Homo sapiens: one gene and its partners. The protein of the gene in region 4 interacts with the protein of the main gene of each other region in a biochemical or structural test. Each region holds a gene or a part of one and is shown on either strand. Other genes may lie near its edges.

Region 1 (8,577 bases), on a different chromosome or scaffold from region 4:
GCCTGGGCGATACAGCAAGGCTCCATCTCAAAAAAAAAAAAAAAAAAAAGCCATACTTTAAGGATGGTAGATTGACTGCCTGAAAACATCTCAGGGATTGCCCAGGTGTCTGTAGACTATAGTTTGAGGTTAATTTTCTTCATCCCTGCTAAAATGTAAATTTCACGATTGCAGGGATTTTAATCTCTTGTTCACTGATATGCCTCCAGGGCCTAGCCCATAGTAGGCATTCAATAAATACTTATTTAATTATTTAGTTAACGAAGTTAATCAGAATTAGATCATATTACGGAAGAGCTATGTTCTCCATTATTGGAAACACATTTTTAAAAATTTGTTTTTGGATGGATAAAAAATACAACAGGAGACATGGTGAAAATTCTCCCACTTTGCTTCCCCCAAAGTACTTAAGTTCCTTCCTGAGAGGTAACCACTGTTATCAGTTTCTTCCACATTTTTCCAGTGATATTTTATGGTTCACAAACATTACATATACAGGCATATTCCTTTCTCTCCTTACAAATATGGTGGCATACTATATACATATGGGCTGTGACATACCCTTTAATAAGTAAACTTTTTCTTTTGGAATAATTTTATTTTATAATTTTATTTTATTTATCTTTTTTAGAGGCAGGATCTCACTTTGACACCAGGTTAGAATGCAGTGGTGCAACTATAGCTCACTGCAGCCTGAAACTCCTGGGCTCAAACCTGCCTCCCACTTCAGCCTCCCAAGCAGCTAAGACTACAGGCACATGCCACCACCCCTGGCTAGTTTTTTACTTTTTTTGTAGAGATGGGGGTCTTTTTGGCTGGGTGTGGTGGCTCACGCCTGTAATCCTAGCACTTTGGGAGGCCAAGGCATGCGGATCACAAGGTCAAGAGACCAAGACCATCCTGGCCAACATGGTGAAACCTCGTCTCTATTAAAAATATATTTTAAAAAATTAGCTGGGCGTGGTGGCGGGCACCTGTAGTCCCAGCTACTCGGGAGGCTGAGGTGGGAGAATCTCCTGAACCCGGGAGGCAGAGGTTGCAGTGAGCCGTGATCACGCCATTGCACTCCAGCCTGGGCGACAGAGCGAGATGCCGTCTCAAAAAAAAAAAAAAAAAAGAGAGAGATGGGGGTCTTTTTTTTTTTTTGAGACTGAGTCTCTATTGCCCAGGCTGGAGTGCAGTGGCACGATCTCGGCTCACTGCAGACTCTGCCTCCTGAGTTCAAGTGATTCTCCTGCCTCAGCCTCCCGAGTAGCTGGGATTACAGGCGTGCACCACCACACCTGGCTAATTTTTTGTATTTTTAGTGGAGACGTGGTTTCACCATGCTGGCCAGGCTGGTCTCAAACTCCTGACCCCGTAATCTGCCCACCTTGGCGTCCCAAAGTGCTGGGATTACAGGCATGAGCCACCGCACTTGGCTAGAGATGGGGTCTTTCTGTGATGCCAAGGCTGGTCTAGAATTCCTGGCCTCAGGTGATCCTCCCACCTCCACCACCCAAGTTGCTGAGATCACAAGCATGAGCCATCACAATTGGCCTTGGAATAATTTTAGATTACAAGAAAGTTGAAAAGATAGTACAGAGATTCTTTTTTTTTTTTTTTTTTTTGAGACGGAGTTTCGCTCTTGTTGCCCAGGCTGGAGTGCAATGGTGTGATCTTGGCTCACTGCAACCTTCGCCTCCTGGGTTCAAGCTATTCTTCTGCCTCAGCCTCCTGAGTAGGCGGGATTACAGGCATGCACCACCATGCCTGGCTAATTTTGTATTTTTGGTAGAGACGGGGTTCTCCATGTTGGTCAGGCTGGTCTCGAACTCCTGACCTCAGGTGAGCTGCCTGCCTTGGCCTCCCAAAGTGCTGGGATTACAGGTTTGAGCAATCGCACCCGGCCCTGTACAGAGATTCTTGTATACTCTTTACTCAACTTCCACTAATGTTAACATCATACATTACCATATGGCTATGTCAAAACTGAGAAATTAGCATTGTTATAATACCATTAACTAAATTACAGAATTTATTTATATTTCACTAGGTATGCCCTTTTGGTTCTAGGATCCAATTCAGGATACCACATTGCATTTAGCGTGGTGCTTCTTTTTTTTTTTTTTTTTTTTTTTGAGACAGAGTCTGGCTCTGTTGCCCAGGCTGGAGTGCAGTGGTGCAATCTTGGGTCACTGCAAACTTCGCCTCCTGGGTTTGAGCAATTCTCCTGCCTCAGTCTCCCGAGTAGCTGAGATTACAGGTGCCCGCCACTATGCCCAGTTAATGTTTTGTATTTTTAATAGAGACAGGGTTTCACCATGTTGGCCAGGCTGGTCTCCAACTCCTGACCTCAAGTGATCGGCCCACCTCAGCTTCCCAAAGTGCTGGGATTACAGGTGTGAGCCACCGTGACTGGCCTCGCATGGCGCTTCTTATTCACTTAAAATATATCCTGGAGATTGTTTCATATCAGTTAATATGCAGTTGTCTCATTAGAAGGACTACAGAATGAATTCCTAGAAGTGAAATTGCAGGAGCAGTGATTATGTGCATTTAAAGATTACCAAACCCTCTCCCTTGAAGAAATTACCAGACCCTTGTCCGGTGCAGTGGCTCACACCTTTAATCCCAGCTCTCAGGGAGGCAGAGGCGCGAGGATACCTTGAGCCCAGGAGTTTGAGACCTGCCTGGGCAGTATAGCGAGACCCCGTTCTCCACAGAAAGGGGGGAAAAAAGACAAAAAAAAAAAAAAAAAAAAAAAAGAAAGAAATTACCAGACCTTTTTTTGGAGAGGGGGAATTGTCTTTTTGTGGTTTTTCTCTTGAGACAGAGTCACCCTCTGTCACCCAGGCTGGAGTGCAGTGGTGTGATCTCCGCTCACTGCAACCTCCGCCTCCTGGGTTCAAGCGATTCTCCTGCCTCAACCTCCCAAGTAGTTGGGACTACAGCGCACGCCACCACACCCAGCTAAGTTTTTGTATTTTAGTAGAGTCGGGGGTCTCACCATGTTGCCCAGGCTGGTCTCGAATTCCTGAGCTCAAGCGATCCGCCCGCCTCGGCCTCCCAAAGTGCTGGGATTACAGACATAAATCAGGGCGCCCGGCCTGGACCCTTCTAACTGGTCCCCCTTTGAGTATTCCAAGTTTCTTCACATTCCAAGATTAGGATTGGACAGTGATAATGTAAAGTGCTCAAAAAGTTTTTGCACTCTTCAAAATAATTTTTTTAAGTCTACTGGCACAAATACATATAGCATTGCGTGATTTACATTACACCAATAATTCCTTGTACCATGACCTACGTATATGGTTGAGTCCTCTTAGGACCACTAGGGGGCTCTGCTAGAAGGGTTTATATAATTTATGTCAGCCCACTTAGGGGAAATGTTTTGAGATGATATTTTCGAATTCTGAACTCTTAAAACTTGAGAGAGATAATCTAATCCAGTTTTCTCGTTTCGTAGATGAGGAAATAAAAGCTGGCAAGAGAACTGCCATGGGAGAGAACTGGAATTTTAAAATCTCCTCTTGGTTCCTGGGGCGGGAGTTTAAGAAATTCTCTTTTGCCTTGTGCCCCCACTGATTCGCCTCCATTGGCTATTTCCATGTTTGCCACCACAATTTTAATTACTTTTGGTAAAACCATGTATTTGTGATATTTTTATAATAGATATTTTACTGATTGGCTAGGTGAAGAAAGTGCATGAAGTATAAACTTCTGAAATGACACCCTTATTACTTATTCCAAAATGTTCTATTCAAAATGCTTCTCAGTACCAAACCATTATTACTATGCACCTTAGAAACCACTTTCTTTTTTAAAAATTATTATCTTTAGAGACAGGATTTCACCATAGGGCCCAGGTTGGTCTCAAACTCCTGGGCTCAAGTGATCTGCTCCCCCTCGGCCTTCCAAAGTGCTGGGATTACAGGCGTGAGCCACCGCGCCCGACCAGAAACCACTTTCTTTTGTTTGTTTGTTTTTTGTTTTTTTTTGAGACGGAGTCTCGCTCCGTTGCCCAGACTGGAGTGCAGTGGCGCAATCTCGCTCGCTGCAAGCTCCGCCTCCCGGGTTCACGCCATTCTCCTGCCTCAGCCTCCCGAGTAGCTGGGACTACAGGCGCCCGCCACCACGCCCAGCTATTTTTTTTATATTTTTTTAGTAGAGACGGGGTTTCACCGTGTTAGCCAGGATGGTCTTGATCTCCTGACCTCGTGATCCGCCCGCCTCCGCCTCCCAAAGTGCTGGGATTACAGGCGTGAGCCACCGCACCTGGCCCAGAAACCACTTTCAAACTTACTTTCCACTTAAAATATTTTATACTTTTTGTTTTGTTTTGTTTTGTTTGAGACAGAATCTTGCACTGTGGCCCAGGCTGGAGTGCAGTGGCGCGATCTCGCTCACTGCAACCTCCGACCCCCAGGTTCAAGCGATGTTCCTGCCTCAGCCTCCAGAATAGCTGGGATTACAGGTGCCTGCCACCACACCTGGCTGATTTTTGTATTTTTAGTAGAGATGGGGTTTCACCATGTTGGCCAGACTGGTCTCGGACTCCTGACCTCAAGCGATCCGCCGCGCCAGCAAAAACGTTTTAGTCTTATCTGTACTCATTTACTCATTCAATATTTATTGAGTGCCTACTATCACCAGGCACCTTTGAGGCCTAGGTTTACAGAAATAAGGCTCCCCCTCCCCCACCCCGAGTCCCCTGAAGGGTACTGTAATTGTTTCCATTTCTCCAATTTTCACTTTAATATATGTGAATTTTCACATGCTTCATTCAGTTCAGTGGTTCTCATAATGTGGTCCCGGAACCAGCACCAACAGCAGCAGCAACTGGGAGACTTGTTAGAAGCGCAGTCTTAGGCCCACCCTACACTCTAGGGATGGGCATAGGAGTGTGTGTGTGTGTGTGTGTGTGTGTGTGTGAGAGAGAGAGAGAGAGAGAGAGAGAGATTGTGTGTGTGTGTCAAGCTCGGTATTAAATAGGTCAAAGAGCAACATCTGGCTTCTAAACCCACCCTCAGGCCTCTCCACCGAGTACCTGTCTCAAACCCAATCTGATCCAACAATAACCAGCCTTAATTCAATAATCTGTGCTACCTGAGATGATGGGAATAATCGTGGTACTATAAATGTTGCAGAACAAAAACGACTGCAGTAGATTTTCTGGGGCTACACCAACTGAAAATGGGCCGGACCGAGATCCGGGAGAGCGTTTTCCTGCGCTAGACACGGCGTTCAGCCTCCGGGTTCCGGGTCTAGCTGAGTCAGGGCGGCGTTCCAGCCGAGTGCGGCGTCGGAAACCCGTTCGGTTGCGCCCGAACCTTCGGTCAGAGGCCAGCGCTGGAAGCCCAGACCACAGCACCCGGGTTTAAACAGGAGCGGAGGCGCCGGGAAGGGCCGGGGGGGCCGGCTAGGGCCGGCCAGCTTGGAAGCCGCACCCTCGCGGCCCCAGACGCCGGCAGGGCGGAGCCACGCGGCCGCAGCCCCAGCCGAGACGCGAGCTCGTGGCTCGGGCGTATGGGGGCTCCAACGGGAGCGGCTGCGCCGCCCGGCCGGGTCAACGTCGTGCGCATGCGCCGACCCGGCGCCATTTTGGTGGCCGGGCGCGGAGGTGATTCCACACTGAGGCGAGCGCGGCGGCCGGGGTGGTAGTGGCAGTGTTCGTGTGCTCAGGTCTGAATCGCCGAGGGAGGAGGCGGTGGAGGAAGAGGTGGCGGCGGTGGCGGTGGTCGTAGCGGTGGCGGAGGAGGCGGGTACGAATCAGCTGCGGGCGGAGACATGGCCAACATCGCGGTGCAGCGAATCAAGCGGGAGTTCAAGGAGGTGCTGAAGAGCGAGGAGGTCAGAAATGAACTCCCGGATATCCCCCACCTCTGCCTGGGGCGGGAGGGTCCTCCCAGCTGCGACCCCGATATCCCCGGTAGTCCCTGGGTGGTCCTCCTTGCGGCCGCCCTTCTGCCTGTGAGGAAGCAGCAGTGTTCCCCTCCTCCTTCCGCCGCCTTCCCCTCCCCTCCCAGAGCGCTAGGATGGACGGTCTCGCGGGCGGGTGGTCTGGGGTGGAACATGGTTTGGGGAGGTGATGGACAGGGGGCAACTCCTCGGAGGGATGGAAGCTCACAAGAGAACCCGAGGCGGTGGCCGCAGCTGGAAATGTGGCTGTGGGGTGGGGAGGGAGCAGGCCGAGCCTGAGAAAACCCGGGAAGTGGGTTGGGGGAAGGGGAAAGGTGGTAACTGGATCCCAAGAGCAGTGCTGCTCGAAGGCCCACACTTTTGAGGGTATTCGGGGTTATTGCCTGTCAGGCCTTCACTGTTCTTTTCTTGGGGAAGGAGCAGTGAGTCCTTAGGTATTGATTAAAAAGGAAGGACATTCAGAGTTAGTCCTTCTTAGTTGGGTGTTAGGAGTCAAAGGGAGACATAATAGAATACTGTCTTATTTGGTGGCAGGGGTAAGGGAATTTTCACCTGAGTTAGCAAGTTAATTCCAAATAAGATAATTATCTCTTTTCCACTTAACCCCCAAATTCCTAGGCCTCATCTTTATTGACATCTCAATCTTTTGAGTGGGCAAAGGCAAGGTGTTTGGTGTATTAAAGACATGTAAATATTTTTAGTTAGGAAACAAATAATGGAATGTATGAGTAGCTTATTTCAAAATATTGTTTACAAGTTACAGATCAGAGAGACTGTCTTAAGACAGTGCCTCTGTGACTCGTGTTGTGCCACGAAACTTCATTATGATGTCCCTCATAGTTAACTTGATTCTTACTTTTGAAAAGCAGACCTATTAAAAATGTGAAATTTCACCAGATTAATACATTGTTTCATCTCCTTATTGAGATTTATCACGACTTAACAGATTTTCAAAAAAGTTGCCTCCCGTTGCTCTTAAGTCCTGCAGAATTTAGATACATTTGTACTACGTTTATTTATGTAAGATATTCACAGTGCTCTAGTAATTTGACTCAAAATTATGCAAGTATTAGTACAGTTTCTCATACCAAGATCAACAAGAATGCCAGATTGTCTTCCCCACATGAATTAAACAAAAAGTAATACAGAAAATGATTATTTTCAAGATTCACATACCATTATTGAATATATCATTGCTATTTGTGTTTTTCTTTTACAGTTAGTACTTTAATAGTGTCAATAATAATTTGTGAAATTCAGCATTCTAAGTATGTGATGAGTATACATGGAGAAAAAATTATTTAAAATTCAAAAATGACAACAGACTTATTGAAAGTAGTATATAAGTCATGGTCGGTTTTACAGAGCATGTGTATGAACTCTGACCTCTATGTTTGTTCATATGCCAAAACTCTGAATGGAAGGATGACTTTGTATTTTGTGGTACAATGCAGAAATAGAGTCATAAGTGTCTGTACTGATACAATGAAACAGCAATTTTAACTTATTTAATATGAAAATGTATTCCAGGTTAGTTGACATATATACTCCTAATGAAAGCAGTTGTTGTTGCCAACAACTGAAAACATTTCTTGTTTAATAAGGTTGTACAAGCCTGAAACTTAATAGACTTTTAATGCTTTATTTTCTGTTACTTACGGTAACAGAAACAGTAAGTTACTGCTCTGGTAATTAATGTGGTCTCTTTGCTTTTTATGAGCTGACTTTTCACCGTGGTATTCTTAGTACTAAGTTGAAGATTACCAGAAATACTTGTATTGCTCTCTAGTAATGCATATTAAAAAAACACTGCTCTTTATACGTAAGGGATGTTGAAGCCTTACTTCAGATAAGCATCAAAAGTGTTTCAGAAGAAGAAAACAGGAAATGCAAACAGACAGGTTTTTTGTTGTTTTTGTTGTTTGTTTGTTTTGTTTTGTTTTGTTTAGAACAGTACCTGTATAAATATGGAAGGAAACTTCTGGGAAAATAAGTTGGAAAGAACATTTAGGAAAGGGTCACATCATTTAATCTTGGAATAAATATAACCAATAAATAGCTTATTTTCACCAGTATTTTTTGATATTTTAGTAGCCCCAGTTCTATAAGTGTATTGTTATTTTCAACTCATTGAAGACTTGTAGTATAGTCCATGTGTTTCCTTTTTAAGGGTGTAAATACAGTCTTTTGAATGGCTGATCAAATAAATGTTTCATCATGTCACTTTTTTGGTAAATCAGCACTTTACCGAAGTTTATTTCATGTGTTTGTATGCTTGTGTTTACTAAGAACACTGGTTGATTTAAGGACTTTTTGGGGTGGCCTTATAAGAGCCTTTGTAAAGATAGCTGACGCTTACTGGATTCTGGTTATGAGAGATTATAAGTGGCCGTTCTTAGAGTGTGTTAAAATACAGCCAACAAGATAAATGTGAAAAAGCAAGGTGCAGAATAGTGTGGAAGAGGCCATTTGTGTCAAAAAGAAGGGCATGTGTGTATTTGCCTGTATGGGTAAAAGGTTTCATGAGAAATTGGTAAAATTGATTGCTTTCTGTGTAGAGAGTTGGGTGTCTGGGGTATAGATATTTTTTGAATTTTGTGTCATACAAATGTGATTTACTTAAAGGCATCATTTGGCCTCTTTCCCTTAAGACAGTGTTTGGAAATTTGTCAGATG
Region 2 (6,851 bases), on a different chromosome or scaffold from region 4:
CCAGCCTCCCATCCCTCTGGGAGAAGGTGCCTTTAGAGTATGAGCTCCCCTTCTCCATTCTCTGGCTACTGAATGAAACCTGACTGCCTTTCAAAGTGGGCGTTCTTTCTTTGTGGCTGATATAAAGTAGGGAAAGAGGACAGTTTACCAGTGACGGCATCACTACATTTTTGCAAATATTTAATTTGTCTTAATAGAAGACAAATAGATTCTCATATTTGCTTCTGAATTCAATCTGTTGCAAAATCACATCATGTAGCCTCTGGAAAATTCCATTGTACACATGGAAGAATGAGTGAAAATGGCAAATGTTTTAATATTATGAAAATAGTCTTTTAAAACCTCTTGAAATGGTCTCAGGGGTCTCCAGTGTTCCCCAAATAAGGCTTTGAGAACCATTTGTGCAAACTAATCACGATGGTTTCATTCTTTTCACCACCATTGGTTTAGGGGTGGGCACAGGTCCCTGATGTAGCCAAGGAAAGGCAAGAGGCAGTGTGCTTGATGGGATGGTGCTTTTAGAGATTTCCTCACCTCCTAAGGAGACACTAGAAGACAGGGCCATTTATCTACCTCTGGATCAAGTAAGGGGGCTGCACATAACATGCAACCAAAAGATGAAACCAACATAGAAAAATCTCAAGGAAGCAGAGCAAAGCCCAGATGTACAGTACCTGGAGTTGTCCTACCTCTGGACTTCTTGTATGTGAAATAATCTGTCAATTGTGTGCAAGGAGGCCATGGGTATGCTAAGGAAGGAGCAGATTATTTTCACTGGGGGAACTAAGGATAGCCATAAGGAAAAAGTAGCACTTGAATTTATAATGAGAATGGAAGAGGAAAAAGGCGGAGGAAAAGGTGACTATTGTACAGACTATTTCCAGGTTCTTTCACACTTTCACTTTCTCTTGTTAAATCTGCCTGTCTTCCAAGCCTCCCCTCACCACTTCCCTCCTTAAATATCTTATTCCAGAAACTCAATAAAGCCTACAAACACATCAAGCAGAGTTTTCTTATGAGGGAAAAATGAGAAAGTAATCTTTTTTTTGCTTGCCATGATCAGCACAAACAAAATTTTTAAATGGTTCTTTATTCATAAACTTGATGCAAGTTTACAAAATTTACTGTACATTGCCAAATAAATCTGCAATTAAAAATAAAATCCATTAAACAAAGCATGCCAAATGTGCAGCTATCAGTCTGCTTGCCATCAGGATATTAAAGAATTCAACAATGTATTCAAGATTTAGCCTTAGGCTTAAGGAACTTTACTGATTTAAAGAATTCTGCCTTGTCACTTGTTATCTGAGCAACTGGCAATCAGAACTTTATACAAATGTAATCAAGTGAACAAGAATACCAGAAAATCTATTTACTGCTCTCTTAACCAAAATGGAATCAAAAGAAATTAAACACACACAATGTAGAAATGACAAGTCTCTCAGATGTGGTTTACAAAGTTAAAAACTGAATCTCAAAGCTAATGCACAAGAAACACTTTTGAACTTTGTAACTTGTTTGTGCAGAAAAATGTGCTTCTGGATTTGTTAAAAGTGCTTAAGAACTAGAATTTACTTTTAAATCAAACGTGGGTGTATAAAAAAATCTATTACCAACCAAAAAGGACTGATTCAGGTAAGGCAATAAAATGGAGAGTACCTTGATTTGAGTCAGGTTCTATAAAAAAATTAACATATGTAGAGTTTCTATTAATCTTTCAATGTAAAAGCCATTGTTTTGACATGGCAAAAATTACTGTAAGAGTCTCCAAATTAAGTATCTTTTTGTACTTAACTGCACAGCTTTTGCTCAAGGAGTCTTTGTGCCAATCACTTTATAAGTTTATTAGTTTACAAACGATTGCAACATCCCGTTAATAAAATGGAAACGTAAGATGACTTAGTATTTTAAATAACTTGAAGCTCTGTACTGTGGCTCTTGTTCATAAGAAACACTGAACCAACAAGCAGCAGATTCAGCCCAGCCAAGACTCTGATGCCCCAGTGGAAATCACTACTCACAAGCCTTAATTGATACAGTTTTACACTGCTTTGCCTAAGAAGTACAATACAACTCAATTAAGAGTATTATCTTCAGGAAACAATTCATATCTTCACATAGTCATTAAAAAGTTTAACAATTTAATGAGTAGGTTTCCTATCACATTTTGGCAATATCATAAAATGGTTTTAGACATGAAAGAGCTATTATGATTTAGAAGGCCTTAAATTTCCTAAACCAATATTGAACATCGATTAAACCTGTATTGGCTGTAAATGGAACAATATATTGCAAATCCTTGTAACCCATGGGCTCAATATAGGAAAGTTACCCTAAAGCCTCAACTTCAGTAGCCTGATGTTGACTTGGCTGCTTTAAAAAGTTCACTTTTCAAGAAAAAGAGATAAGGAGTGGCCAGTATGTGTATTTATCAGGAAAAATACAGTAAAGGCCCCACTGCTCAGTCCAAGATATCTAAAATGAGCAAAATGCAAAGGCTGTAACTTATACTGGATGTCAGATGACAGATTATCCACTAAAATATCTATTAACTAACATCTTCGGTACTGCTGTAATAGGGGCACTCAAAGCTTTTGTCTGCATGTTAGAAAGATTTTCTTTAAAGCAACATTAGTCCAAACATACAACAGTCAACACATTTAGCCATCTTCCTTTGGAGGGGTGTACCAGCCTGAAATAGAATGAAAAAAAAAAAGTTAAAATAATTCTTAAATAAATTAGAAGAACTGGCATGTAATAAGGTTAGCTACAGTCTCTTTTCATAATTTTGGTGTTTAAAATCTACCGTAAAAAATATATATATATATTATATATATATTTTTTGAGACAGAGTTTCACTCTGTTACCTAGGCTGGAGTGCAATGGCGCAAACTCAGCTCACTGCAACCTCCACCTCCCAGATCAAGCAATTCTCCTGCCTCAGCCTCCCAAGTAGCTGGGATTATAGGCATGCGCCACTATGCCCCACTAATTTTTTTTTTTTTTTTTTTTTGGTATTTAGTAGAGACAGGGTTTCACCATGTTGGTCAGGCTGGTCTCCAACTAATGACCTCAGGTGATCCACCCACCTCCACCTCCCCAAAGTGCTGGGATTACAGGTGTGAGCCACTGCACCCAGTCTACTCTAAAAATTAAACTTACACTTGGATTGGGAACACTGCATTTTGCTATTTCACAACAGAAAGTTATTTTCTATGAATAAATTGTACCTGAGTTTTCAACACAAGAGCTCTGTATTAATGGCATCTCTAGCTAAAGATGACTGTGGAATATTAGACTAAAAGAATAAGTTTTATTCCACTTCAGTTCTATACTTGAAAGTAAGCCTCATGGAAAGTACTTATTTCCCCAAACAAAATCCTGGCGATTTAGAATACAAGGAACTTGGACTGTTATCGGAGCCATAACGTCATTTCACAATGACAAGGAAGCCATCGCAGCAGGTGCAATGACTAAATGACTATGCCTAAAATCAGAGTTAGTAGCAGGCCAAACTAGAATCCATCTTGAGCTATTGTACAACATGGTGACTATAGTTAACAATATACTATATTCTTGAAAAATGTTAAGAGTGGATGTAAAGTGTCTCACCATAAAAATGATAACTATGTAAGGTGATGCCTAGGTTAATTAGCTAGATTTAGTCATTCCACAGTTATGTATACTTCAAAACTTTGTACACAGTAAGTATAATATCTATTTTTTTAAAATAACAAAAAAATTTTAAGATTTAAAAAAAAACAAAACCCTAGAAGTCATCTCCCCTGCTTCTGACTCTATTACTCTTTCATCACAGCTAAGCTTACACATACCCACACACTCTCAAATACAGCATTTTCTATAAATATTTTTTGAATGCCAGTTGTAATGGTTAAGAAATAAAAACAAAGATAAGAAGAAATCTGTGTCCCAGGTTCCGCAAAAACCTAAGCTCTCTATAAAAAGGCAAATTAGACTAAGTACTGTTTAGTATGAAACTTTAGAATAGTATGAATATGCCAAGATCTATAAAGTATCAAAGTAGTACACAGGTTTCTTTGGATCTAATTTTGTGTGCTAGAAATTATTATTATGAAAACCTGGCCTTGTCCTCAAATTTTATCGTTTCTCTCTTCTGCTTGAAAATTTTGTTTTGAATACTATTTCCATAAGTAAGCAATCACTGAAAGAGTGACAAGTTTGCTTTGTCATTAAAATAAATGAGCACAAAACACAAATCTTAAGTCACAAACTGACACATTTCTAGCAAAGTAAAGAATACTTTACAGGCATGGTGGCTTGTGCCTACAGTCCAAGCTACTGAGGAGACTGAGGCAGGAGGATCACATCAGCCCAGGAACTTGAGGCTGCAGTCCACTATGATCACGCCTGTAAACAACCACTGCACTCCAGTTATAACAACAAGAACTCCATCTGTAAGGAGTTGCCTTTAACTCAGTTCCTAATATTTCAAGTAAGTAAAGTGAGTCATTCATTAATCTACTAAAAAAAAAAAAAAAGAAATCTTGATTCTGACTCTGAGATACCTAGGCCAAGTGTATAGGATACAAAAATTTTGACTGAAGTACAATGTTAAGGTTTTGTGGTGCAGTGGCTTACACCTGTAATCCCAGTACTTTGGGAGGCCGAGGCGGGCGGATCACAAAGTCAGGAGATCGAGACCATCCTGGCTAACACAGGGAAACCCGGTCTCTACTAAAAATACAAAAAAGGCACCTGTAGTCCCAGCTACTCGGGAGGCTGAGGCAGGAGAATGGCATGAACCTGGGAGGCGGAGCTGGCAGTGAGCTGAGATAGTGCCACTGCACTCCAGCTGGGGTGACAGAGCGAGACTCCGTCTCAAAAAACAAATAAAATAAAATAAAATAAAATAAATAAATAAATAAATAAAGATTTTGTATGCAGCACAAGTTTCTTTCACCATGGTAACAGCATTTTAAGAAACTAAAGCAAAAACAGAAAAATAAAATGGTAAGTATTAATACATTATCTAAAACTTCTTAAATGGCAATAAACACTTATTGAATTAAACATACCATTTTTCTCATGTATCTGTACAATGGAATTATAGGATTGTTGGGCTCTTGCTAGATTATATTGATTCTGAAAGAGAATTACACATTTTAAATCAAAAGTGTAATTAGGTGAAAATTATTACAATAAATTTATGAATGCATCACACTGTGCTTAAAAGAACATGGGAAACTGACTATCTCCATTTCAAAAACAATTTTAACTTAATAGCCTCATTTCTCAGTTTCATTATTCTCTACAATTTTATAAAAATAACAAAACCAAAATTGTACCCCAATAAAACTCAACAAGCCTCACAGTTCATTTTTATAAGTCTTCCTACCATTGGACAAGTACAAAGCTTTCTGGTTCTAGAGTCCGTCTCCATATTGCTGAATCAAGTTAAAGGATTATATCTGGATGTTAATAAAACTCAAACTGTCTTCACACAATTTCTATTTTTAAAAAAACTACAAAATATTACTTTCAGATAAGAAAATATTAAGCTTCCACAACTATACATATGAATGACATTTTAAGTTAGAAATCTAAAGAATGCCCATAATTGTCACCATGCTTACTAAAGGAGCCCTCTTTTGATAAAAATATACAATCTTTTTAAGGAGCCAAATCTAGGATTAATTTTGTCACCATAAGTACAACCAACCTATATCTTCGCTTCGAATTAATATACCAGGAGCACTCTCCATAGTGGTACCCATCTATCCACTATATTATGTGGCAGAAATTTTTGCATAATAAATTCACACAGCACAAGACTCAAAAATGTCTACATCCTAAGTGAAAACTCTCCCTCCTACTTGGTGCCCTGAACACCCAGTTTCCTCCCGTTCATCCCCCTTCCTCCACACAAGTTAACCACTATTACTAATTTCTTGTATGTCCCTCTTTAAGATTATTCATGTACAGCCCACTGTTATTAGCCACTGTCCCTGGCTTTCCTTCACTAACAGTTGCATGCTACAGACACTGGTCTGCCCCTTTTCTTGTCTAGCATATCTTGGAGAATGTTCCTTATCAGTATAGAACATACCTGTTTTAAACACTGAAATATTTCTATTATATGGATATTCAAATATTTAATCAGTCCCCTATTGGTGGACATCAGGGTTTCTCAATATTTTGCTGTTATAATGTTGCCAAGAGCAACCTTGTACGTATATCTGCTGAGTACTGGTAAAAATGTCCTAGAGTAGAGCTGCTGTGTCAAAAGATATATATGTGTAATTCTGAGATATTGCTAAATTGCCCTCTACATAACTGCACAAATGTGTCTGCCCACCAGCCATCTGTAAGAGTGCCTCGATGCAGCCTCACCAATGCAGTACTTCAAACATTTGTAGATTTCTGACAATATACTAGATGGACTCCCAGTATAGTTTTGATTTGTATTTCTATTGAGTGAGACTGAGCATGTCTCCATTATGTTCATGAGCCATTTATTTCTATTTCTGTAAACAGACTTTTTATACCCCCTTTTCCTATTTTTTTTTAACATGTTAAATTTATGTAAGGACTTTTCCTATTTTTCTACAGGGTAGTCTTTTTCAACATCTAAGAGCTCTTTAAAATAGTAAAGCCGGCCAGGCACGGTGGCTCACACCTGTAATCCCAGTACTTTTAGAGGCTGAGGCAGGTAGATCACCTGAGGCTGGGAGTTCAAGACCAGCCTGACCAACACGGAGAAACCCCGTCTCTACAAAAATACCAAATTAGCCAGGCGTGGTGGAGCACACCTGTAATCTCAGCTACTTGGGAGGCTGAGGCAGGAGAATCGCTTGAACCCAGGAGGCAGA
Region 3 (7,719 bases), on a different chromosome or scaffold from region 4:
AGCAAAGCTGTCCTTGGGCTGGAGCCTCTGCTCCCCTTTCCCCACATCACACATGTCAGAGTAATGTTTGGTATAGATCAGGTTCATGTCTGAAAACTTAAGAGGCAGTTAAATGAAGAGGCAAATTTCCTCTGTCCCCAAAGTTCTCTTTCAATGAAGGTTCCAGCTACCATTCCCAAATCAAATGGAGACTGACATTTGCTTTTGGTGTGTTCTAAAATTTCCTGTTGTTAACACCAGTTTAGAGGATGGGCAAGGTTAGAAGAGAAAGATGGGCTGGGCACGGTGGCTCACACCTGTAATCCCAGCACTTTGGGAGGTCGAGGCAGGCAGATCACCTGAGGTTGGGAGTTTGAGACCAGCCTGACCAACATGGAGGAACCCCGTCTCTATTAAAAATACAAACTTAGCCAGGGGTGGTGGCACATGCCTGTAATCCCATCTACTCAGGAGGCTGAGGCAGGAGAATCTCTTGAACCTGGGAGGCAGAGGTTGCAGTGAGCCGAGATCGCACCATTGCACTCCAGCCTGGGCAACAAGAACAAAAGTCTGTCTGAAGAAAAAACAAAACAAAATAAAACAAAAATGGGAAAGATGATGATAGGACAAGAGGGTTAAAGTTTGGTAAATGAAGGGTACGGGGAGAAATGTGTTCACAGAGTAGCCTCCAGGCTCACACTACTGTCATCAGGAGTCAACCCAAGACCATTCCAGCAGGGAGCAGACTGACTCAGGGAATCAACTGGCAATGAGACCCCAATTAGGAGGTCATGGTGGCTGGTTGGTTGGTTCAGTTGTCCAAACTATAAAATGAAGATGAGAAAGTGCCTTGAGAAGGATTTGGGAAAATAAGGCCACAAAAACCTGAGACACAGTGAAAAGACTGGTTTTAACCCCAGAGAAGGAAAATGATTGATTGTGAGAGATGGAGCAACAATAAACGAACCAAGTGGCAATGGCAACAGCTTCCATTTGTGGGGCACTTAGCTTGTACCAGACACTGTGCTAAGCGTTCCATTCATTACTTAACTCTCAAGACAGTTCTATCAGTTGGTAGGTATTATTACCCCCATGTTACAGATCAGAACTGAGCCTTAGCATAGCTAAGTAACTGCCTGAGATTACACTGTAAATAAATTGTGGAGTCAAGATTAACACCCAGATCTCTGCCTGACTCCAAGCCCAGGTTCTCACCACTGAAGAATTTTCCAGATGTCAGAATTCTCTCTCCTCCTAAATCTAAAGCTTATAATGTCTGACTCTGCCCCCAGCACCTCGGAAATACAAAAGGCAATAAAAATATTTCATTGCAGCAATTTTGCAGAAGACAGGGTAGGGACCTTTTATATCAGAGAAAATCTTTATCATCTGCATTTCAAGGACTTAGAAAATAGGAAGCAGAAACAAAAATAGCAAAAATATTGGAAGTATAGTTGATCAAGGCACAGTATATGTTTAAATTGTTTTAAAGTGCTATTTATTTTAACTTTTAGGTTCAGCATGTGCAGATTTGTTATATAGGTAAATTGTGTGTTGTGGGGGTTTGGTGTACAGATTATTTCATCATCCGTATGATGAAATCATACATAAGCATAGTACCTGATAGGTAGTTTTTCAGTCCTCACCTTCTTCTCATCCTCTACCCTCAAGTAGGCCCTGGTATCTTTTGTTCCCTTCTTTGTGTTCATGTGTACTCAATGTTTAGCTCTCACTTATAAGTGAAAACATGCATTATTTGGTTTTCTGTTCCTGTGTCAGTTCACTTAGGATAATGGCCTCCAGCTCCATCCATGTTGCTGCAAAAAACATGATTGCATTCTTTTCTATGGCTGTGTAGTATTCCATGGGAGACACTGAATAAATGCTGAACTGAGGGCAGTTACGGAGACTGAAACCTGTCTGCAATTATATGCAGGCTGTCTGCTAGACATCCAGCATAGAATAGGACCTATGTGGTTTCCTAGGCTCCCCCCATCAATCCACTCATCACCCTTCATTTGTTAAATGTCCCATCTTCTCTGACACACAGACTGTTTAGCAGTACCTGGGTAAGACACAGACTGTTTTTGCAGTACCTGGTGCCATATCTGGCAAGGAATTGGTGTTCAGGATTTATTTGCAAAAAATGAAGGCATAGCGTGCTTAAATACATGGGATGCTGTTTAAGTAGTTTTTAGGGGGAAATTTATAGCATGAAAGCCAATATTAGAAAGAAAGTCTCAAATCAGTGGCCTCCACTTCCACCTTAAGAAACTACAGAAATAAGTGCAAATTAAACCCAAACTAAGCAGAAAGAAAGAAAATAATGATCAGAGTGGAAATAGGTGAAATAGAAAACAGAAAAACAATAGAGAAAATCAAATGAAACTAGACATTAGTTATTTGAGAAAAATCAATAAAATTGATAAGCCTCTAACCAGATTGATCAGGAAAAAAAAAAAGGGCAGACACAAATTACCAATATCTGGAATGAGAGATGTGACAACACTATAGATTCTGCAGGTATTAACAAGATAATAAAGGAATGCTGTGAACAACTTTATGCCAATAAATTCAGCAACTTATATTAAATGAAAAAATTCTTTGAGACACAAACTATCAAAATTCATTCTAGAAGAAACAGAGATCCTAAATAGTCCTATATCTATTAAAGAGATATACATTATAGTTTAAAAACTTTCCACAAAGAAAACACCAGGCTCTGGTAAATTCTACTAAACATTTAAGGGTATGTTTGCAGAGTGAATGAATGAACAGTGGATCTAAGGACAACAAAAAAACTAGAAAAGAACACACAGAAAAAGGGAGAAACTCTAAAAGAACCTCAGACAGACAATTCCTGGGCCACGTTTGGCTAAGGCTTCTACCAATGGCCTAATGAAGAAAGCCTGGTAGCTAATCCCAGAACCACTGCATAGTGAGATATATGTATGGGTGTTCATGTGTACAAACTGTTAACAAACTGTCCCTATATCATTACTTCCTCTCCACTAAATTTGTTCTTGTCTTTATAAAGTTCTGAAGAAAAATCTTCTTCAGGAATTGTTAAGGAGAACCAGGTAGATCCAAATGACATGTTTATTCACCGTTCGTAGTACCCATTTAATCATTCAACAAGCATTTACTAATTACTCATTCACTATATAGCAGTCTCAGGACTCTCTTCTAAGATCTAGAGATGTAAAGTGCAATAAGACATATTTCCTACTATAACAAGCTCCCAGTCTAGAGATATTTACATATAATAAATTCAAATCATTGCCATGCAGCAGTTGGTGCTGTGATGGAGCAATGCACCAAGTGCTATGAGAACACGGAGAGTGGCTGGGTGTGGTGGCTCACACCTGTAACCCTAGCACTTTGGGAGGCTGAGATGAGAAGATCACTTAAGCTCAGGAGTTCAAGACCAGCCTGGGCAACATAGTGAGACCTTGTCTCTACAAAATATTTAAAAATTAGCCGGGTGTGGTAGCACATGCCTGTACTCCCAGCTACTTGGATGGCTGAGGTGGGAGGATCACTTAAGCCTGGGAGGTCGAGGCTGCAGTGAGCTATGATTGCACCACTGTACTCCAGCCTGGGCAACAGAGCAAGACCTCCTCTCAAAAATAAATAAATAAATAAATAAATAAATAAATAAATAAATAAATAAAAGGAGAAGTCTCTGGAGAAAGTGATGCTTGGACTGAGTTTTGAAGTAGGAGTAGAAGTCAGCTAGATGAAGAAGAGAAAAGCATTTGAACAACATTCAGATTGACCTGGAGGCAGAAAAAGCACATCCACTTTGGGGAACCACAAGCTGTGCATTAGGACTAGAGCAGAAGTGGGAGGTTGGAGAGGACACTAGAGAAGCAGGCAGGAGATTAATGATGCAAGACCAGGCTCTGGGAACGTAGGCAGGAAGTATGGGCTTTATTCTGAAAGTGATGGGGAGCCAATGAAGAAGGCAAGCCCAGGAGCAAGATGATCAGACTTGAGTTTCAGATCTTTCAGCTGGTGAATAAATTGGAGGGAGGCCAGACTTGGGGGAGGAAGATGAGTTTTGAGAAATTTCCAGAAATTCAGATGGTGAGAGTCTAAATCAAAGTGATGTCAGAGTATATACAAGAGACACAAGATTTCACCAGAGTGGGCAAGGAAGAGCAGCACCCCCATGGAATAGTGACTAGACAGGGCACGTTCTTGTTTTTTTTGTTTTTTGTTTGTTTTGTTTTGCTTTGCTTTTTGAGACAGAGTCTCCCTCTGTTGCCCAGGCTGGAGTGCAGTGGCGTGATCTCGGCTCACTACAACCTCTGCCTCCCGGGTTCAAGTGATCTTCCTGCCTCAGCCTCCCGAGTAGCTGAGACTACAGGTGCATGCCACCATGCCCACCTAATTTTTTTGTATTTTTAAGTAGAGACAGGGTTTCACCATGTTGGCCAGGATGGTCTGGATCTCTTGACCTCGTGATCCACCCGCCCTGGGCCTCCCAAACTGCTGGGATTACAGGTGTGAGCCACCAGGCCCGGCCCAGGGCACATTCTTGTTTGTGCGTGCAGTGTGACCCCCAACCTCCCACCCTTCCACAACTGGGAAGAGGAAGCACGGGCCAGGCATGGTGCTGGGTGATTTCTACATCTCACCTAACGCGCTCAGTAACTGTCTGAACACGTGGGATCGGCCTCATAGATCAGGAATCAGGGCTTCTGGAACTGACCGACTCAGCAATGAACAGGGCAGTGTTTTCTCCTTAATGCCCTAAGGATTTTTGAATCCGCTTTGCTTGCATCTCTGTGAGCCCCTAGCTAACTCCTTACTTCGCTGGTTAAATATAGCACCTCTTATCTTCTACTCACCTCATTGCCAGAAAGGTGGTACATCCTGGCTTCCTGGAGCAGCGGGAAGACCTCTGGGCACTGCCTGATGAGAGGATCTGCTTCCACCGTCTCCACAAAGTACCACGGGTCCAGAAGCGGTAAGCGCACGTTCTCGAGGACATAGGGGAGTAAGCAGAGTCGTTCTGATGGCTTGTGCCGGACCCAGCTCATCACGGTCTCAAACACCTGAGCCTCCTCGGTCACGTAAAGGTCATCACTCTTCAAGATGTGGTGCAGAGTGTCCACGGGCAGGTCAAGAAACTCCTCAGAGTTCAGAATCTGCACAAAGTTTTGAATGATGTAACTCTGAACCTGCTTCTTTAGACTGTCCAGCGAGTGTGTGTCAGCCAGCCTCAGTATTCCAACGCAGTTTTCTGGGTTCAAGGCTTCAGTGAGGAAGCTGGCACAGGCATCCACCATCCGCAGGAACTGATGAAATAGAAAGGGTGGAAAGGAGGCCAGAAAATGGTGAGTCCACAAGGAGGTTTATCAGTGAGTTATGTGTATTAGCCAAAAATTGGAAACAACCTAAATGTCCAACAGTACAGGATGAGCTAAATACATATAATTCATTCATACAGTAGACTTAAAACAATGAGATACTTACTGGACGAGCTAAATACATATAATTCATTCATACAGTCGACAAAACAATGAGATACTTACGGGAGGAGCTAAATACATATAATTCATTCATACAGTCGACTTAAAACAATGAGACACTTACGGGACTAGCTAAATACATATAATTCATTCATACAGTCGATAGCTCTGTAGATACTTAAAACACATGTTGTAGAAAATATTAAATGAAATAGAAAATGTTCATAATGTATTGAGTTTTAAAATCTGTTCATTGGATCTGATTAAGCCTCTACATTTACTCAGCAATTTACAGGAAATACAGGGAAAGAGGAACCTGCTAAAGACGTCATGGGAACATGATCAGCAAAATCCAGATTGTGGAAAACTCTACTGAACAACTTGTTCAGTTTCTTCAACAAATACATTACAAGGGGATAAAAGAGAGAGAGAAGGAGAGGGAGAACCTAAAGATAAACAGAGATTTAAGACACATTGACCAATTGCAAAGTATGGATCTTATTTGGATTCCTGATTTAAACAATATATATTTTTTAAAGTTGGAGAAATGTTTACAATGACTAATATTTGGTGCTAATGAAACAATTATGATTCATTTTAGGTGCCATAATGGTTTCATGTTTATGTTGAAGAAGAATCCTTATTTTTTAGAGCTATAAGTGAAATATTTGCAGATAAAATGAGAAAAGCACGTCACAAATCATATGTACATTGTGACCTTATTTTTATAAAGAAAACATACACAGAATAAAGTCATAGAAAGAAGATGAAAGGATGTAGGTCAAAATATTAATGGTTGTTATCTCTTTGGGTTATCAGGTATCTTAAGGCAAATTCTGCTGCAGCAGCAAACAACCCTCACGTCTCAGGGGCTTACAATAAATGTTCCTCTTACCCACTATGTGTTCTTCACGGGGCTCTTCATTCCAGGGGCCAGGAAGATGGAAAGCCCTTACCTGAGACATGCTGGTCCCATGACAGAAGGGGAAAAAGATGGCAGAACCACACAGAGGCTTTTAAAGCTTCTGCTCAGAGGGGGCGCATGCTATATCCATTTACACAAAACCGTCCAGAGTAAGTCACATGGCAAAATTTGTCATCAAGGGAACCATAGTTCTCCCACAGAAACAGGTCTCATGGGATGGACAGGGAATATACTATATAAATAATAGAAGGTATGACACTCTAAGAAGACTATGAGAATTTTTCTGTTTTTGTTTATTTATATGTTTTATTTATTTATATATCCTTTAAAATGAATACGTACCGCTTTTGTCATTAAAAAATCAATTTGTAAAATTATTGATTGGCTCTCAGGTCCCACTTTTAAGTTATCACCATCCTCATAAAAATTCAAGTCCCTTGTGCTTGTAGGGCACTTTACAGATGACAAAGCACTGTTATATCCATTATATTTTGTAATATCCATTTTACAGATGACATGTCTCAAATGCATTGGTTCATTCTTATTTGTTGTTCTCTGGAGCTTAGCTTTGAACAATTTCAACCTCCTAGCTCCCTTCCCCGTCTACTGGACTCCTTATAGGGTCAAGTTCTTGGTGCCCATGGGTTGATCGATTAATGGGGGGAGAGGAAAGGGGAGGCTGAGGGGGCAAGACCTGGTGGGGGTGGGGGAGGCCTTCTGAAGGCAGGTCCTGGTGAGAGTAGGGACAGGACAGACCTGACTGGGGAGGGTTGGCAGGAGCTGTGGGGAGTGGGGCTATCGAGCCTGAAGGTTGATAGTGGGGCAGGACTGGTTCTAAGAGTGGACCAAGGTGACCTAGGCTCTGGACTTTACTCCAGAGCATTCCAGGGAACACATCCCTGACTTTTTGGATCAACCTCTATTGCAAAATATTATCTTTCTGTGTCAGATCACATAGGATTGTCAGTTTAAAAAGCATTTTTTAGGCCGGGCGCGGTGGCTCACGCCTGTAATCCCAGCACTTTGGGAGGCCGAGGCATGCAGATCACCTGAGATCAGGAGTTGGAGACCAGCCTGACCAACATGGAGATACCCCGTCTCTACTAAAAATACAAAATTAGTCAGGCGTGGTGGCACATGCCTGTAATCCCAGCTACTCAGGAGGCTGCAGCAGGAGAATGCTTGAACCTGGGAGGCGGAGGTTGCGGTTAGCTGATATCGTGTCATTGCACTCTAGCCCGGGCAACAAGAGCAAAACTCCATCTCAAAATAAATAAATAAATAAATAAATAAAGCATTTCTCCGAGGGTCAATGCTGAAGGGGGCCAGCCCCTC
Region 4 (8,043 bases):
TTGCCCAGGCTGTAGTGCAATGGCGCGATCTCGGCTCACTGCAACCTCCGTCTCCCGGGTTCAAGCGATTCTCCTGCCTCAGCCTCCGGAGTAGCTGGGATTACAGGCATGCGCCACCAGGCCCAGCTAATTTTTTGTAATTTTAGTAGAGATGGGGTTTATCCATGTTGGTCAGGCTGGTCTCGAACTCCTGACCTCAGGTGATCCACCCGCCTCAGCCTTCCAAAGTGCTGGGATTACAGGCGTGAGCCACCGCGCCCAGCCAACTTTCTATTTTAACAAGTATAACTAATATTAGTGATGACGAGAAAAATACTTTCTTTGAGATAGAACTTACTTCTGCCTATCAAATCATAGCCAATGGATAACTTCATCCTTCATATTACCAAAGTCCTTAGCTCTTTAATTATTCTGATTGTAACAGGATAATCTATCTGGAAGTTTTGGGTTTTTATACATCTACTTTTATTCCACTAACATATTTCTTGGAAGAGTAATGCTGATCTACAACAGTAATATCCGATAGAAATATGTGAGCCATTATAATCCGAGTAATTTTTAATTTTCTGGTAGTCACATTAAAAAAGGTTAAAAGAGGCTAGGCGTGGTGGCTCACGCCTGTAATCCCAGCACTTTGGGAGGCGGAGGCGGGAGGTGGGTGGATCACTTGAGGTCATGAGTTCCAGACCAGCCTGGTCAACATGGCAAAACCCCATCTCTACTAAAAATACAAAAATTAGCCTGGTGTAGTGGTGCCTTCCTGTAATCCCAACTACTCAGGAGTCTGAGGCATGAGAATTGCTTGAACCTGGAAGCAGAGGTTGCAGTGAACCCGAATGGTGCCACTGCACTCCAGCATGGGTGATAGAGAGAGACTGTCTCAAAAAAAAAAAAAAAAAAGTTAAAATAGCTAAAATTATTTTTAGTAATATATTTTATTTATCCCAGTTTATACAAAATATCATTTCAACATGTTGTCAATATTAAAATTACTGAGATATTAAAAAAAATCTTGGTACTAAGTCTTTGAAATCTGGTATTTTACACCTAAAGCACATCTCAATTCACAGAAGCCACATTTCAAATCTTCAACTGTCACATGTGGCCACTGGCTAGTACTGGACAGTGCAACTCTAGAATATTTAAATTATAAAGTAATACTTAGAACTTTTATCAGGAAATTGAGGTAAAACTCACACTTACACTTAAAGCTTTAGTAAAATTAGAGACGCTGATCATAACATTCATGAGACTGGATGCAAAACATGAACTTATTTTTAATTTTCAGCTAGCTTTATTTTACCCATGCTTCCTTTTTCCATCACTAAAAAGTGAAACTTCAACACGGTACAAACTAAACAGTAAGTAGTTACTAAAACCTTGTTATGAAGTTTTTTTTAGCGTTCTTAGCTATTGCAAACAATGTAGAAGTTCAACTTTTGAATATAAAATCCTGAGTGTAAAGAAGAATGCTTTGCCAAAATGCAAATTTTTGGTTTTTTCAAAGTGGAAGACAGCAAATTACAAAAGCAGAGTATGATTTAACAAAAATATATGAACAAAGGACGTAAGTCTTCTTACATGTCAGGTTACCACAACAGAAATAACAGATCAGGGGTAACTCAAAGGATCCACTAATGAACACGAGTGTAATTAAATCCTCATAGAACAAGTGCCTGTTTGAATTATAACATCTGCTTTTTCTAAACGTAACTAGAATATGTTTCACATTCTGTCCTCCTAGCAATTTTCCAAACTCTAAAATTTTGAAAACATTAATCTCCAAATCAACGAAAATGTCAATATTGAAAAGCAGTCTTTAACAGGATGTAACGACCTCTATTTCTTCAAAAATTGAACGTGGAAGTAAACAACGTAAGAAAGGCATGTGAAGCTACAACAGTGGTATAGCTTTTTAGACAGCTAAAAGGTTTTTTAAAAAGGAGAATCTATTAATATTCTTAATATCGTAAAAAGCTTTTAACTAAGTTTGTATGTTTAACCATTAAAAGGCTGCACTGGCTAACATTTGTTTCTTTGCTTTTGAGTGACTTTATACCACTGTGGTATAGCAACGTTAGCTTTCTCAGGTTAACCAAAAGTTCCTACTGGAACTTAAAAGTTTGGCCAATACAAAATTGGAAAAAAGATTACTTAAAGCACTTTATTTGGGATACAAACTCACCCACCCACAATGGGTAGGGGGAGAGTAGAAATGAAAAAAAGGAAGGCCGTGGGTAAGGGGAGAGGAGGAATTAAAAAGGGAACCCAAGGGTTATGAAAATATAAATAAATCACTGGATTAGATTTACTTTATGCCAGTGATTACTTGAGTCAATTTTGGTGTGAAGGATTTATCTGCCGGTATCTTAAACGGCTGCCTTGGGATTTGAAGGATGGAAATGACAGCTACCCTCATCTTCTCCCATCCTGAAAGCTAAGGATAGAAAAAAGTACAGCTGCTTCTCTGGGAAACAAAGATGCTTTCTACCATTCTTCTAAGATGGTGGAAGAGTCTCCTCAAGAGGCTACACCAAAAAGGAAAAATGAGAGAGGGAAAGAAGAAAGCCATAGCAGAATTTCCTGGCTGTGTTTCATGCCATTGCTCCTAGCCACAACCCCTGTGCAACCACTCAGGTCCGGCCGTCCCCATCCTGGGAGGTTAAGCCCTCCCAGGGCATTGTTTGGCCGGGGTTCCTATTTACCACTCAGATCGCCTCCACCACCCTCTACGCTAGGGTCTCGGGAAGCCCCAGGGCAGAAAGCTGAAAAGCTAGGAGAAGACTTGGTTTCGAGGACCTCTTCCAAACCCCCTTACTAACTGGTGTAGAAAAGGGAGAGTGAAGCCGGGCCTTTGCTTGGGTGGGTTCGTTAGGGGTCAGAGGCGTCCGCTCGGCCAGTGTCGAAGGAAGGTGGCCATTTGAGCCGGTCGCTCCGCATCGAAAAAGCCCTACCAGAGAGAGGGGCCTCCGCAGGGCCCGGGTTCCATCCGAGTGTCAGGTGCGGCCCTCAGTTCCCAACCCTCGAGGCACCAGGGGCGACAGCGCACAGGCCCCAGGGCTGAGACTGGTCTCCCGCCCGACCGCCGGGGACCAGGCACCCGGGCTGGGGCCCGAGCCGCATCGTGCCCGCCCCCGCCCTACCTGAGGGGGCCCGGGCGGGGTCGCTAAGGGCCGCTCCCGGGAGCCCCGCGACGGCGCGGCTTGGCGACGGAGGCGCCTCGTCTCGCCGGGGCAGAGCTCGGCGGAGGTTTCACGACCTCAAACTCCATCGGGAGCTACAGGGACAGCCCCGTTGGCGGCGGCGAAGGCCGCGACGGGGCCTCCTCCTCCTCCCTCCACCTCCGCCTCCTCCTCCTCCTCCTCCTCACCACGGAGGCGGACCTGGAGGGATCCCGATCTAGCTCTCGCGAGAAGTTACTCCCCACTTAACGCGAGATTACGCAAGCCCGGGAGTCGGGAGTTGGAAGGAAAGCGTAGTAGCCCCAGCCACCCAAACTGCGAATCAACTTCCCTCTGCCTCAGCGGATCCACCCCGATCACGTGACAAGGGAGCCCCGGAGCACTGTGGGAGGTACTGTGAGAAGGACTAGGCAAGCCGAAGGGATTGATGGGAAATTCCCTGCACATTCATCTGCGCCTTGAGCCGGCTTCCTAGACGCTGGTTTGAGCGAGTGTCTTAACTCCCTTCGTGAAAAGCGTGGAATCCATTGAGCAGAATCTGATACATCTGTGTCACATTCTTCTTCACACTCCTGTGATGACATGCCGACAGGATCCCTCAATCCCTTTACAAAGATGTCAAGTAATCTCCCCATTACAAAAACAAGAAGAAAACATGTATTTGGCAGGCACTTCCACATCTCACTTCTTTATTAAAGAGAAAACTCTGTTTCTAGACAAAGAGTCCAAAGTGGGGGGGGGAGGGGGGGAAGAAAGCTCTGAGCTCCTCAAAAGCTGGCAAAAATAAAAAATTTAAGCACAAATTCTGGCATCATATCTCAAATATTTGTTGAAGCTTTTTACACAGCGAACTAAGGTAAGAATTATTCTTACAGTTTATAATTTATAGATGAAACAGACTTGGAATAGGGATATCAGAATTAACATTTATAAACTACTTAGTATGTGTCAGGCAGGTCCTGTGTTAGGTGATATTTAATTTTAAATATTTTAGTTTTATTTACATTTCATTTAATTAGCAAAGTGATCCTAGAAGACAGATACAATGTACCCCTTGTTACTGATGAGAAACTAAAGAATGTAGGCTAGAAAATGACCATGACGCCGGGCGCGGTGGCTGATGCCTGTAATACCAGCACTTTGGGAGGCCGAAGCGGGTGGACCGCCAGGTCAGAAGTTAGAGACCAGTCTGGCCAACATAGTGAAACCCTGGCTCTACTAAAAATACAAAAATTAGCCGGGTGTGGTGGCGGGCACCTGTAATCCCAGCTACTCGGGGGGCTGAGGCAGGAGAATCACTTGAACCCGGGAGACGGAGGTTGCAGTGAGCCGAGACCGCGCCATTGCACTACAGCCAGGCGGGGGGGCAGTGCCAGACTCCGTCTCAACAAAAAAAAGAAGAAAAAAAATGACCATGACTTGTAATTAAACTCAAGGCACTTTCCAATGTGAAATCAGATGCCCAACAACAAAAATATCGAAGTAAACCTACGATAAATTAGAATATGGAAAGGTTGCTTCTACAGTTTTAACAAAATATATAGTTATTACCTATTATATTTGTCTGAATGACAGGCAAAAATCAGTGTTTTTGAAAAAAGATTCATTGGCCACATCGAAGACGTTTCTTCCACACATTATCTTTTTCGTTCTCTTCTCTTTATGAAACATATGCCAGGCCTAGAGAACTGTTAACAACCAATAATTGTTTCAGTAATTTCAACTGGACAGTGATAGGTAATTTACATGTACATATTTGTTTTCCACCCTACTGTGTATATATATATATACACACATATATACATATATGCACATATATACATATATACATACATATAAATATATATACACATATATAGATACATATAAGTATATATACACATATAAACATACACATTATATATACATATATGTACATATTTTTTTTTTTGAGACGGAGTCTCACTCTGTCACACAGGCTGGAGTGCAATGGTGTGATCTCAGCTCACTGCAACCTCCACCTCCTGGGTTCAAGGAATTCTCCTGCCTTAGCCTCCCCAGTAGCTGGAATTACAGGCACCCGTCATCATGCCCGGCTAAATTTCTTTTTTGTATTTTTGTAGAGACGGGTTTTCACCATGTTGGCCAGGCTGGTCTTGAACTCCTGACCTCAGAAGACCCGCCTGCCTCGGCCTCCAAAAGTGCTGGGATTGCAGGCGTGAGCCACCAGTCCAGGCCAAATTTTTCTATTCTACTGGATATATTTACATTTCACTAGACAGAAGAATATATATTTCTGATAATCCGAGATTTTTCAAAGGTGTCCTGGTCACCATATTTATTTTTGAGATGGGGTCTTGCTCCCTCAGTTAGGCTGACTGCAGCGGTGCGATATTGGCTTACTGCAACCTCTGCCTCCCAGGTTCAACGGATTCTCCTGTCTCAGACTCCCGAGTAGCTGGGATTACAGGCAAGCGCTACCATGCCCGGCTAATTTTTGTATTTTTAGTGAAGGGTTTTCATCAGGTTGGCCAGGCTTGTCTCAAACTCCTGACCTCAAGTGATCTGCCAGCCTCGGCCTCCCTAAGTGTTAGGATTACAGGCCTGAGCCTCGGCGCCCGGCGCTGACCACCATATTTAAAATTGCAATTCCATCCCCCTTCTCTGGTACTCCCTATTCCTGATTTTTCTCCAAATTCCTTCTCAAAATTTGACATACATGGATTTTACTTACTTGTTTACTGTTTGTCTCCCTTCACTAAGATGTTTCACAAGAGCAGGAATTTTTGTCTGTATACCTAACTTATATTTCATTGTAAGGACTCAGGAAGTATTTGCTAGATGAATGATTAATGTATAGTCAGGAGAAATTGTATCCTTTAAATTGTATCCTTTAAAATTCAAAGATGAAGACAAAACACATTGTTCTCCATTCCCACCTCCAGTTTATTATTTCTTATGTAAACATGTAAGATAGTTACATCCCAGGAAAAAGGGCAAGTGTTTTTCTCTGACAACGAAGTAACAACTACCTTTTCAAGATCTTTTATATGTAAATGGAGTAAATGAAGAGGCTGAACTCAAACACTTTTCATTTTTCTGTCATATCAGAAACATAAACTAAATGTGAATATGTTAAATGAATAAATTCTATACTTTGTCATACCTGAACTTTAAAAAAAGATTCCATTTTCCTGAAAATTTTTAGACATATCATGCAAACAGACACTCTCCTAGGAATGTTTGGAGATCATTCCGTGCTACTGAACAGGAATAAATAATATAAATAATAACCATCACTTTCACAAAACACCCCTCCCCCAGCAAAAATCTCAAAGTGCTCACAAAAAATTTTACAACAATCTTACAAGGCACACATAAAACTTAAACATAGTTTCAACCAATTTTTTTTCAAATATCCAAGATAGTAGATACTAATTCTTAAAAAATCAGAGTACTATTCTTTTACCCTCTCCTCCCATCTCCATCCTTCCCCCTTCCCCCCACGCCATTTTATAATAGGAAGCAAAAATAAGAAAAGTACTTCAATCACTAGTAAACTATTTCTGAAAAGAAAATATTTTCACACCAACAAATGGCCAATCTTAGGTCAAATGGAAGCAATGAACTATGAATGAAAAATTAGCAATGAGCTATCACACTTTCCAGTGGAAAAAGATCCACTAATTAGAAAAATTATGTCTCCAATGGAGTACTTAAGTAACAAAGTTCATAAAGACACAAAACCGTCCTCTCTTGCTTTCCCCTCTTCTGTTCTCAGGAAGAATTAAATACAAAATCATGGAATTTTAGACCTGGAAATGATCTTTCAAATGACCAAGATCAAAGTTATTTTACATATAAAGTTAAAAAGTTCAAGGAGAAATTCAGCACAATGTCGCTAACTAGTAACATTGGGTTATGAAGTCGGTTTTTTCATCAAACGAGACCTGCATTCTTGAAAGTCTCAAGGAAAGTTAAAATTCAGTGGAGAATGTCTTTCCCACAAAATTGTCAAAAAAAGGTTAACACTTATAACAACGAACATGTGATTCATTCATCACACAATTTTTATAAATGGTACAAAGTATATTACATTTTAAAATACAGAAGGGCTTCAATAGAAATTAAATACAGTAGAAATTCTACATAAAGCTAAGTTAACTAGAGGAGGACTAGAACAGCTTCAAAGAAAGATGCATCTAGTCAGTCTTCTTTACGAAAAGCAGTTCCTGTGTTTTAGAGAATATTATTTGCCCTGCAGTATATTTTAATCTTTGTTAAAATAATTTATAAAAGTTTTGTGTTATATGTAGACGGAGATGTTAGAGAACTATGGCTCAGAACACCATCTCAAATATGACTCTCGCTAAAATAATCATACAGTCATAGTTTTCCTTTTGGCATATTTTTGGAAATATAAAACTCTAGGGATGGTTAAGATTTTTATCAACACATAGTGAATGGAAATTACATTAATGTAAATGAAAAAATACAACACTAATAGCTACACCTTTTTAAATTGCTCATCTAGTAACAGCTAGAATATATATTGCCAATTCAAAATTTAAAATGACATGGATGAACCTCAAAGTCATTATGCTGGGTGAAAAAGCATTTCAAGAGGGAACGTACTATAAGATTCTGTTTATATGACAGTCCAGAAAAGGCAAAATAATAGTGACGGAGAACTGTTGCCAGGATTAGAGCTAGAAGGAGCTGACTACAAAGGGACAGCATAAGAGAGCTATTGGGAGTGAAGGAACTGTTCTGTACCGACTGCAGTAGTGGTGCACAAATCTTTCTGTTAAAATTCACAGAACTATACACCAAGAAGAAATTTCAATTTTACTTCATGTTAAATAAAAAATAAAATAGAGAG

What was found.
Region 1: the proteins of RC3H2 (region 4) and UBE2K form a complex in vitro, tested with the Homo sapiens proteins (one study listed by BioGRID).
Region 2: the proteins of RC3H2 (region 4) and UBE2Q2 form a complex in vitro, tested with the Homo sapiens proteins (one study listed by BioGRID).
Region 3: the proteins of RC3H2 (region 4) and KLHL6 form a complex in vitro, tested with the Homo sapiens proteins (2 studies listed by BioGRID, with this or other methods).

The regions. Positions count from the first base shown.
Region 1 is NC_000004.12:39,692,559-39,701,135, forward strand, and holds the start of UBE2K (ubiquitin-conjugating enzyme E2 K), read left to right. Parts: upstream 1-5,577; 5' UTR 5,578-5,769; coding exon 5,770-5,832; intron 5,833-8,577. UniProt on the Homo sapiens protein: Accepts ubiquitin from the E1 complex and catalyzes its covalent attachment to other proteins. In vitro, in the presence or in the absence of BRCA1-BARD1 E3 ubiquitin-protein ligase complex, catalyzes the synthesis of 'Lys-48'-linked polyubiquitin chains.
Region 2 is NC_000015.10:75,895,268-75,902,118, reverse strand, and holds the end of UBE2Q2 (ubiquitin-conjugating enzyme E2 Q2), read right to left. Parts: intron 5,125-6,851; coding exon 5,058-5,124; intron 2,693-5,057; coding exon 2,661-2,692; coding exon of another isoform or gene 2,632-2,660; 3' UTR 1,041-2,631; downstream 1-1,040.
Region 3 is NC_000003.12:183,503,224-183,510,942, forward strand, and holds part of KLHL6 (kelch-like protein 6), read right to left. Parts: intron 5,286-7,719; coding exon 4,836-5,285; intron 1-4,835. UniProt on the Homo sapiens protein: Involved in B-lymphocyte antigen receptor signaling and germinal center formation.
Region 4 is NC_000009.12:122,901,967-122,910,009, forward strand, and holds the start of RC3H2 (roquin-2), read right to left. Parts: upstream 3,394-8,043; 5' UTR 3,144-3,393; intron 1-3,143. UniProt on the Homo sapiens protein: Post-transcriptional repressor of mRNAs containing a conserved stem loop motif, called constitutive decay element (CDE), which is often located in the 3'-UTR, as in HMGXB3, ICOS, IER3, NFKBID, NFKBIZ, PPP1R10, TNF and in many more mRNAs.